Linked DNA regions of Homo sapiens. The protein of the gene in region 1 interacts with the protein of each later gene in a pairwise test. Each region holds a gene or a part of one and is shown on either strand. Other genes may lie near its edges.

Evidence for each region.
Region 2: the proteins of KALRN (region 1) and ATXN7 interact in a two-hybrid assay, tested with the Homo sapiens proteins (one study listed by BioGRID and IntAct).

What each region holds. Positions count from the first base shown.
Region 1 is NC_000003.12:124,666,369-124,669,868, reverse strand, and holds part of KALRN (kalirin), read right to left. Parts: intron 3,421-3,500; coding exon 3,235-3,420; intron 2,858-3,234; coding exon 2,686-2,857; intron 1-2,685. UniProt on the Homo sapiens protein: Promotes the exchange of GDP by GTP. Activates specific Rho GTPase family members, thereby inducing various signaling mechanisms that regulate neuronal shape, growth, and plasticity, through their effects on the actin cytoskeleton.
Region 2 is NC_000003.12:63,982,367-63,985,866, reverse strand, and holds part of ATXN7 (ataxin-7), read right to left. Parts: coding exon 3,422-3,500; intron 2,929-3,421; coding exon 2,846-2,928; intron 1-2,845. UniProt on the Homo sapiens protein: Acts as a component of the SAGA (aka STAGA) transcription coactivator-HAT complex. Mediates the interaction of SAGA complex with the CRX and is involved in CRX-dependent gene activation.

The DNA of each region.
Region 1 (3,500 bases):
TCATTTACATAGCATGTACATTATATCGGGTATTATAAACAATCTAGAGATGATTTAAAGTACAGGATGATGTACACAGGTCATATGCAAACACTATGCCATTTTATGTAAGGGACTTGAGCATCCACAGACTCTGGTATCCTCGGGAGGTCTTGGAACCAATTCCCTGTGGATACCAAGGGCTGACTGTATCTCCATGATTCATTAGGAGAAAGGTCTCTTGGAACGAAGTAAAGGTCTGAATCATTGACTATGCCTAAATAAATACAGTTCCAAGTTCTAAGTACATAGCAGAGTTATAAAGTAGGCCTTATCAAACTGATTTTATGAATCAATTCCCATCACATGGAATTGTGATATTACCTGGTTATTTACAATAATTGTGCTAAAACATTTGAAAATAGAATGCCTTCTTAAATAAGCTAAATGGACAGCCTGTATTCTTTCACCAGCCTCCATTTGCATAACTTAATTCTCAGAATCAAGAAAACTGTGCGTCCCTACAGGGTTTGTTTTTGACTGATCGATACAGTGTCTTATGTCTGATCCTGTTTCTTTCTTCACTTTGGTTGCTAGGGAGATCATAATTAAATAAATGAGTGCCCTAACACTAGCACCTATACTGCAGTTTTGTGGTTCACAACCTTAATTTGAAGTCCTATAGCTGTGGATTCAAGTCCTGTTTCTATCACTTACTGCTTCTGTGACCTTGGACAAGTTCTGAGTCTCCTTTTCCTCACTTGAAAAAAGTAGGACAATAGTACTTACCTCTCCATGTTGGCGTGAGGATTAAATGTGAAAAACCATGTAAAATGCTTAGCATAGTGCCTGGCACAGAGCAAGGATTCAATACACAGGAGCCATTATTGTTATGTCAATAACTTCTTGTTTCAACTTACTGTTGCACCTTATTTTTCTTTTGTCCCAAATTGATGAATTTTAAAATTCCTAATTTCAGCTTAGAATCTATCAGAAACTCCTAATAGAATGCAATTTAAACAGATATTTTTATATATGAACACATTTTTGCATAAAATTATTTTATCAACAAAAGTGTTCATTTGAAGTTGTATATTATATTCAGAAATCATAAGCCATATAAAACTTTCATTACCATCCCTCAGGGCTGGGCTGGTGTTTAATTTTAGACATTTTAGAGTGAAAAGAATCCTAGAGATCACTTAGTCTAGTTGTTTTTCACCAAATTTTTTTTACAGTTGAGGGCCAGGAGCCTGGCCCAAAAATACTTTCTGTAAGTGCAAAATTGCTTTGAAGTCTCATGTTCTATCTTAAAAAGTCGTGGCATCCTGTTACATGATCTCCTTCTATTTGTCTTTAAAACACTGTGCTAAATCCCTTATAATACAGGGAAACTGATATTGTAGGGAGGATGCCAGGTGTCCTGCTTCCAGGAAGACTGGCCCATCACAGAGCATGCCAGCATGGGCAAAGTAGATCTACCTGAACTCCCTTTTTCACAAAACCAGCCACAAGGCCCAGAGAAATGTCATGACTCCTCAAGGTCCTCAACTCGTATGGCACCTTTTATCTTTCCCTTCAGCATTCAGTTCCATTCTAGACATCCAGAAAATGCTGTATTTGGATCATTTGAAAGAGTCCAGATCCTAGTACTGGCATGAAAAGGTGACACACCCGAGGGTGGGCCTGTACGTGTGTACATGCATGTACCTGTGTGTGCGCTCCTGTGAGCACGTATGGCCATGTAGGACGGATCTCAGGACAGGCAGGAAGAGGTGGTATACCCAAAGGTGGTTGTGTGTGTGTGTGTGTGTGTGTGTGTGTGTGTGTGTGTGTGTGTGTGTGTCTCGATATACAGGCATATGTGTTTTCTGAGTCTTCAGGTTTACTTCATTACTAGTTACATTTTGCATTCAACTTCAAGCTCTATTTCTGCTTGGTTAGACTTCTGAGCTAACCAAGTCAGCAGAGATCAGCCACTAGCTTAAAATCGCATACCCCTTTCCCATGCCAAGCTCAGTGTGAAGAAAACCCCAGCAGGGGAAAAAATAAAGAAATATATACAAAGTGGCAACTCTACTTCACTCCAGTTCACACCACCCATGAGGGAGCTCCTGCAAGGGCCACAAAGAGCTACACCCTCTGTGTAACCACAAATTTTCTTCTAGGAAGTTTCAGGGTATTACAGAAATTTAAAGTTAGCAATCATCTCTCATTTAAAAGGGGTAAGGTTGGCTAGTAATGTGGCTTATGTAGGCTCTCACACTGTTGGGAGCAGAGGAGGGATTTGAACTGATTGGTCAAACTCTCATTTATCTCTAGTTAACACTACAGAAGCTGTGAAAAGTGGAAAAACACATATCATTTCTAGCCGGTCCTGGTTCCTTAGACACAGAGGATGTGCCTATCTCAGACTTTTGCCCAAATTAGTACCAGGTGGTAGTGATGGCCACAAGACATATATCCTGTGTCCTATAAGTGAAATCTCTTCTATCAGAAAGATGGAGCTTCTTTTTCATACCCTATCTGTTGTGCTTGTGTATTCAGCTTCAGAAAAATTCTAAAGTGTTTCTGAAAACTACAAAGTTGGAGTACCTATAAAATGTGATCTGGGTTCATAACTCAACATGAACCTAGACCCAAGGAAGCTCAGAGGTCGTGGAGTCCCCTGACACAGCCCTGCAAGGAACCAAGCCCAGCACCCACCATTCAAAAAGTCTCGCTGTGTTTCTAAGACTTGATTGATGTCCTGCACCCAGGCCTGCTGGATGTCAGCGTTGGCGGCTTGCAGAACAACCCTCTCAGAAGTCTCTCTGTTCATGAGTGCAAACTTGCAGGGATCATTGTCCACATTCTCCTCCAGGACCAAGTAATTCATCTGGAAGAAAACGAGTTGATCCTTTTTACATTTAAAAGATTTTTTAAAAATCAGCAACATATTACTCTTCCTCAAAGTTTCTATTTCAGGACAAGCTTCCAAATTTTGCCCTGGATCTAGCAGGACAGTACTTAGGTTTTTGTCTCTGGGTGAGTGACACGATCCCAGGGAACCTGCAGGATCATGCCAGAGACTGGCTCAGCCTGTCACTTCAGCTCACAGATAATCACTGTCGTGCAGCCTCCATGACCGAATGTTATTCGGCTGAAAGATCTTCACGGTTCTGGATGTCACAACTCCAGGGCCTCGTCTTAGGGAAGCAGCTCCCAAGAACTGGGCTCTTCCTTGCCTCTTCTCATCACCATTGGGATCCTCACCTTGATGCTCCTTTTGAACATGTAGCCAGGGGTGAGGGATCCCTTCCTGAGCAGTTCACTGAAGATGACAATCTGCTCGAAGAGGAACACGCGCCTCTCTTTGGTCCGGGACTGCATGCCTGCATCCAGCTCGATCACATAGAATGTGTCCTGCTGCAGCAGCTTCCCCTGAGCAGTCAGAGTGCCCTGAAGGAAAGACGGGCTGGGGTGAAGTGAATGAAAAATGGGGAGCGAGCCACTGCCCTCTGGGTCCACAGAACCTCCCC
Region 2 (3,500 bases), about 61 Mb from region 1:
ACCCTTTATTCCCTGCGACCTAGAAAGAGTGAGGCCTGTGCTCACAGATGTACGTAATAAAAAGTTCTACAATGAGTGAATGGACAAAGGCTACAGGAGTCACAAATCTCTCCGCGTGGAAGGCACAGAGGACTTTCGACGGGATATTAGACAGATGAAGAAGTGAGGAGGGGCAGTGAGGATGGGAGACAGACAACAGAGAATGAGTAATGGGAATGAACAGCAGCAAATCCCCTGACGGTGAAGAGAACAGATAACGTTCTAAGTCTAAGACAGAAGAGACCTGGCAGCAACTTGGGAAACACTCAGGGTAGGGACATGCAGGCATGTTTAGCCCTACCAAGCTTAATAGATTCAGACCAACGTGAAGGCAAGGAAAAGGAAAAGAACTGACAAAACAATGAAAAAAAGTCAAGTCATCCTGTAAAAGGGCAGGCCTGGTGGATGCTGCATTTTCTGCCAGTTCTATGCTGATCTCATGACAAGCTGGGTCTCAAGACTTATTAATGCAATGACAGGCTTAGCCCAATGCCACGGAGAGTAATGACACCCTTAAAGAAGGACGACAAGGGGAGCATATATCATTTGAAAAGGAAGATGTGAGAAAAATGCAGACCCATTCAAAGTCACTCCACCTAGCAATAAAGGCACAGGAAGAATGCCAGTCAAGCTCCTTGAAGATTTTGAGTTGAAAAAAAACTTTTGGCAACCTCACTTCTGGGTAGTTATCCAAAATAACTGAAATCAGAATCTCAAAGAGCTATTAGAACTCCTATGTTCACTGAAGTATTATTTATAATAGACAAGATGTAGAAACAATATAAATGTCTGTCAACAGGTGACTGGATGAAGACAACATAGTATATACATACACTGGAATACTATTCAGCCCTTAAAAAGAAGGAAATTCTGCAATATGCTACAACAAGTATGAGGTAAGCTTGAAGACATTATACTAAGATAAATAACCCAGTCACATAATGACTAAACACCGCATGATTCCACTTATATGAGATCTATAATCAAACTCACAGAATCAACAACTAGAGTGGTGGCTGCCAGCGGCTGAAGGGAGAGCGAAATAAGGAGTTACTAATCAATGAGCATAAAGTTTCAGTTATAGCAAGATGAACAAGTTCTAGACATCTGCTGTATAATATTCTTTCACAGTCAACAATACTGTCTTGCACACTTAAAGGTGTGGTTCCCTGCCACGCTTTGTAAATGACTGAAAAAGAACATCTTGGGTTTGAAAAAAGCAAACCTCATTGCCCACAGGTACTGTATTACTGAGAAATCCATGTTACTGAGAGTCAGGTAGGCAGGAAGAGCGCAGAAGGAGAATGGCAAGTTGTGATCATGATGTGGACAGGGCTGAGGCATGCTTTCACACATTCTCTTAGGGACAGCTGAAACTGACATAATTCTACAGAACTCAGGTGGCTATCTTCATACACCACCACCACTACACCACTGTGTGTCCAATTAGTACCCTATACAAAAAAAAAGCAGTTTGTTTTATGAGAGTTTTTAACCTAGAAATCCAAGGATGGGCTTGGGGTGGGGGTGTCCATTAATCCAAGATAGAAAAATTCAGAATGTGTATGTGTATGCACTATTTTATTCTCGGAAGATGGACCGTGGTTTTTTTTTTTTAAAAATGAGATATTTAAAGGTACTCTTGACCAACCCTTTTCCCCAAAAAGGTTCTGAACCACTGTTGTAAGACAAAATCTATATACTAAAATTAAATTAGAAGCTTAAAGTAAGAACCACTTAAAAATTTCCCACTCCAGAAGACTGTAACATGCCTCCACTGGCTGGGGCATGGGACAGGGCCTGAAGTCCTTTATTCAAATACACTTTAATAAAATTTAAAGTAAAACACTAACAATTTTATTAATTTTTAGAAGAAAATGCTAACTTTTATCATTTTTACTTCCTCCCTCTAAGGTTTTAAAATTACATACTTCAAAGCAGTGACTCTGAATGCTTCTTGAACCTATCTGGGGGGTAGCTGGGGACACCCTCCAGAGAAATGCACATCAACATACAAGCTCATTTATGTAGAGGTGTTCACTGATGACCTGAAGCCACCCCACATCAATAACCCACACTTTTCAGCAAATATACCTTATTAGCATACTGGCATTTTAAAAGAAGGAAGACCCCAGAGCAAAAAGGAAGACCATTACATTTTCTTAGCTTGTATATAAATTATTAATATATTTTATCTAGTTTTTTTTTTCTCTTAAAAGAGATGGGTCTCGTAATGTTCTCCAGGCTGGACTCAAACTCCTAGGCTCAAGCAATCCTTCTGCCTCAGCCTCCCCACTAGCTGGGACTTACAGGCATGCCTGGCTTGCAGTATTTTTTTTTTAAACTAGAAAACAGGGATATTTCAAAATCACAGATTTTTTAAAAAGTGGTTCTTTAAAATTTAAGACCATGGGTGACACATTTTTTAAATGTTCATACACACGCAAGGGAAATTTCTGCACTTGCTTTAAGCCAGTATAATTTAAAGCACAGTCAAGGGTAGCCTATATGGAAATATTAAAAGTTTTTAAAAATAACAGACTGGGAGAGAACACTATTCCTGTGGATACAACACTGCTCATTAGAAACAAAACCTCTGTCAAGATTATAATTTATAACAACGCACTTCACATTTTGTCAATCTGAGGCTTTCTTCAACAGAACCAAGTTATTCCTTCACCTACACAATTCACAACAATCCACAGAGCATCTTCTCTGGGTTAGAGAGACTGTGGGAGTAGTGTGGTACATCCCAGTCACCCATGTTTATCAGGATGGTCGACTTGACTTTCAGGAGTCCACCTACCTTGCATGTCAAAGACCGGGTGCAGGGCTTCTTGGTGTCGAGATCAATAACCCCACAGTGGATGTCAGGATCAAACTCTCTTTCTGTCAAAAGAACACAGGCATTACATGTGGCCTGACAAACTCTCCTCCATGTATTTTTTAAGCAAGAAAATAGAAGAAATCAACAGTTAGATAAATTATAGCTGGAATAAAAGCCACATTATCAATAAAATAAAAAATATACAACGTGTGAGTGCTGCAACAAAGCAGCAACATCACTAAGACAGGGGGTGACTACTGCCATCAGATGGTAGAAAAGATATTGTTTAAGTCTGTATTACTTCCTTCAGAAATACACCACTAGAAAGCTACTTTTACATGACACACACACACACACACACACACACACACACACACTCATGCTCTTTAAAACCCAAGAGTGAAAAGAACAAACATATTAACTAAGGAACTTCCTCCTAAAGCTGAAGTTGACCAGTTTTAAAAATAGGAATTCTAGATTGCAGTTGATTTGCTCCCCACGAATGCCCATTTAATATATAGAGAAGCATTATGAAGAAAGAAAATTTGAAGTTACCTGATAATCTCTTATTTAAAAATTTCCTATTATTGGAATTGTCTTCAGGTTTCTTTTCCAGAGTGGGCGGTGCAGGAAG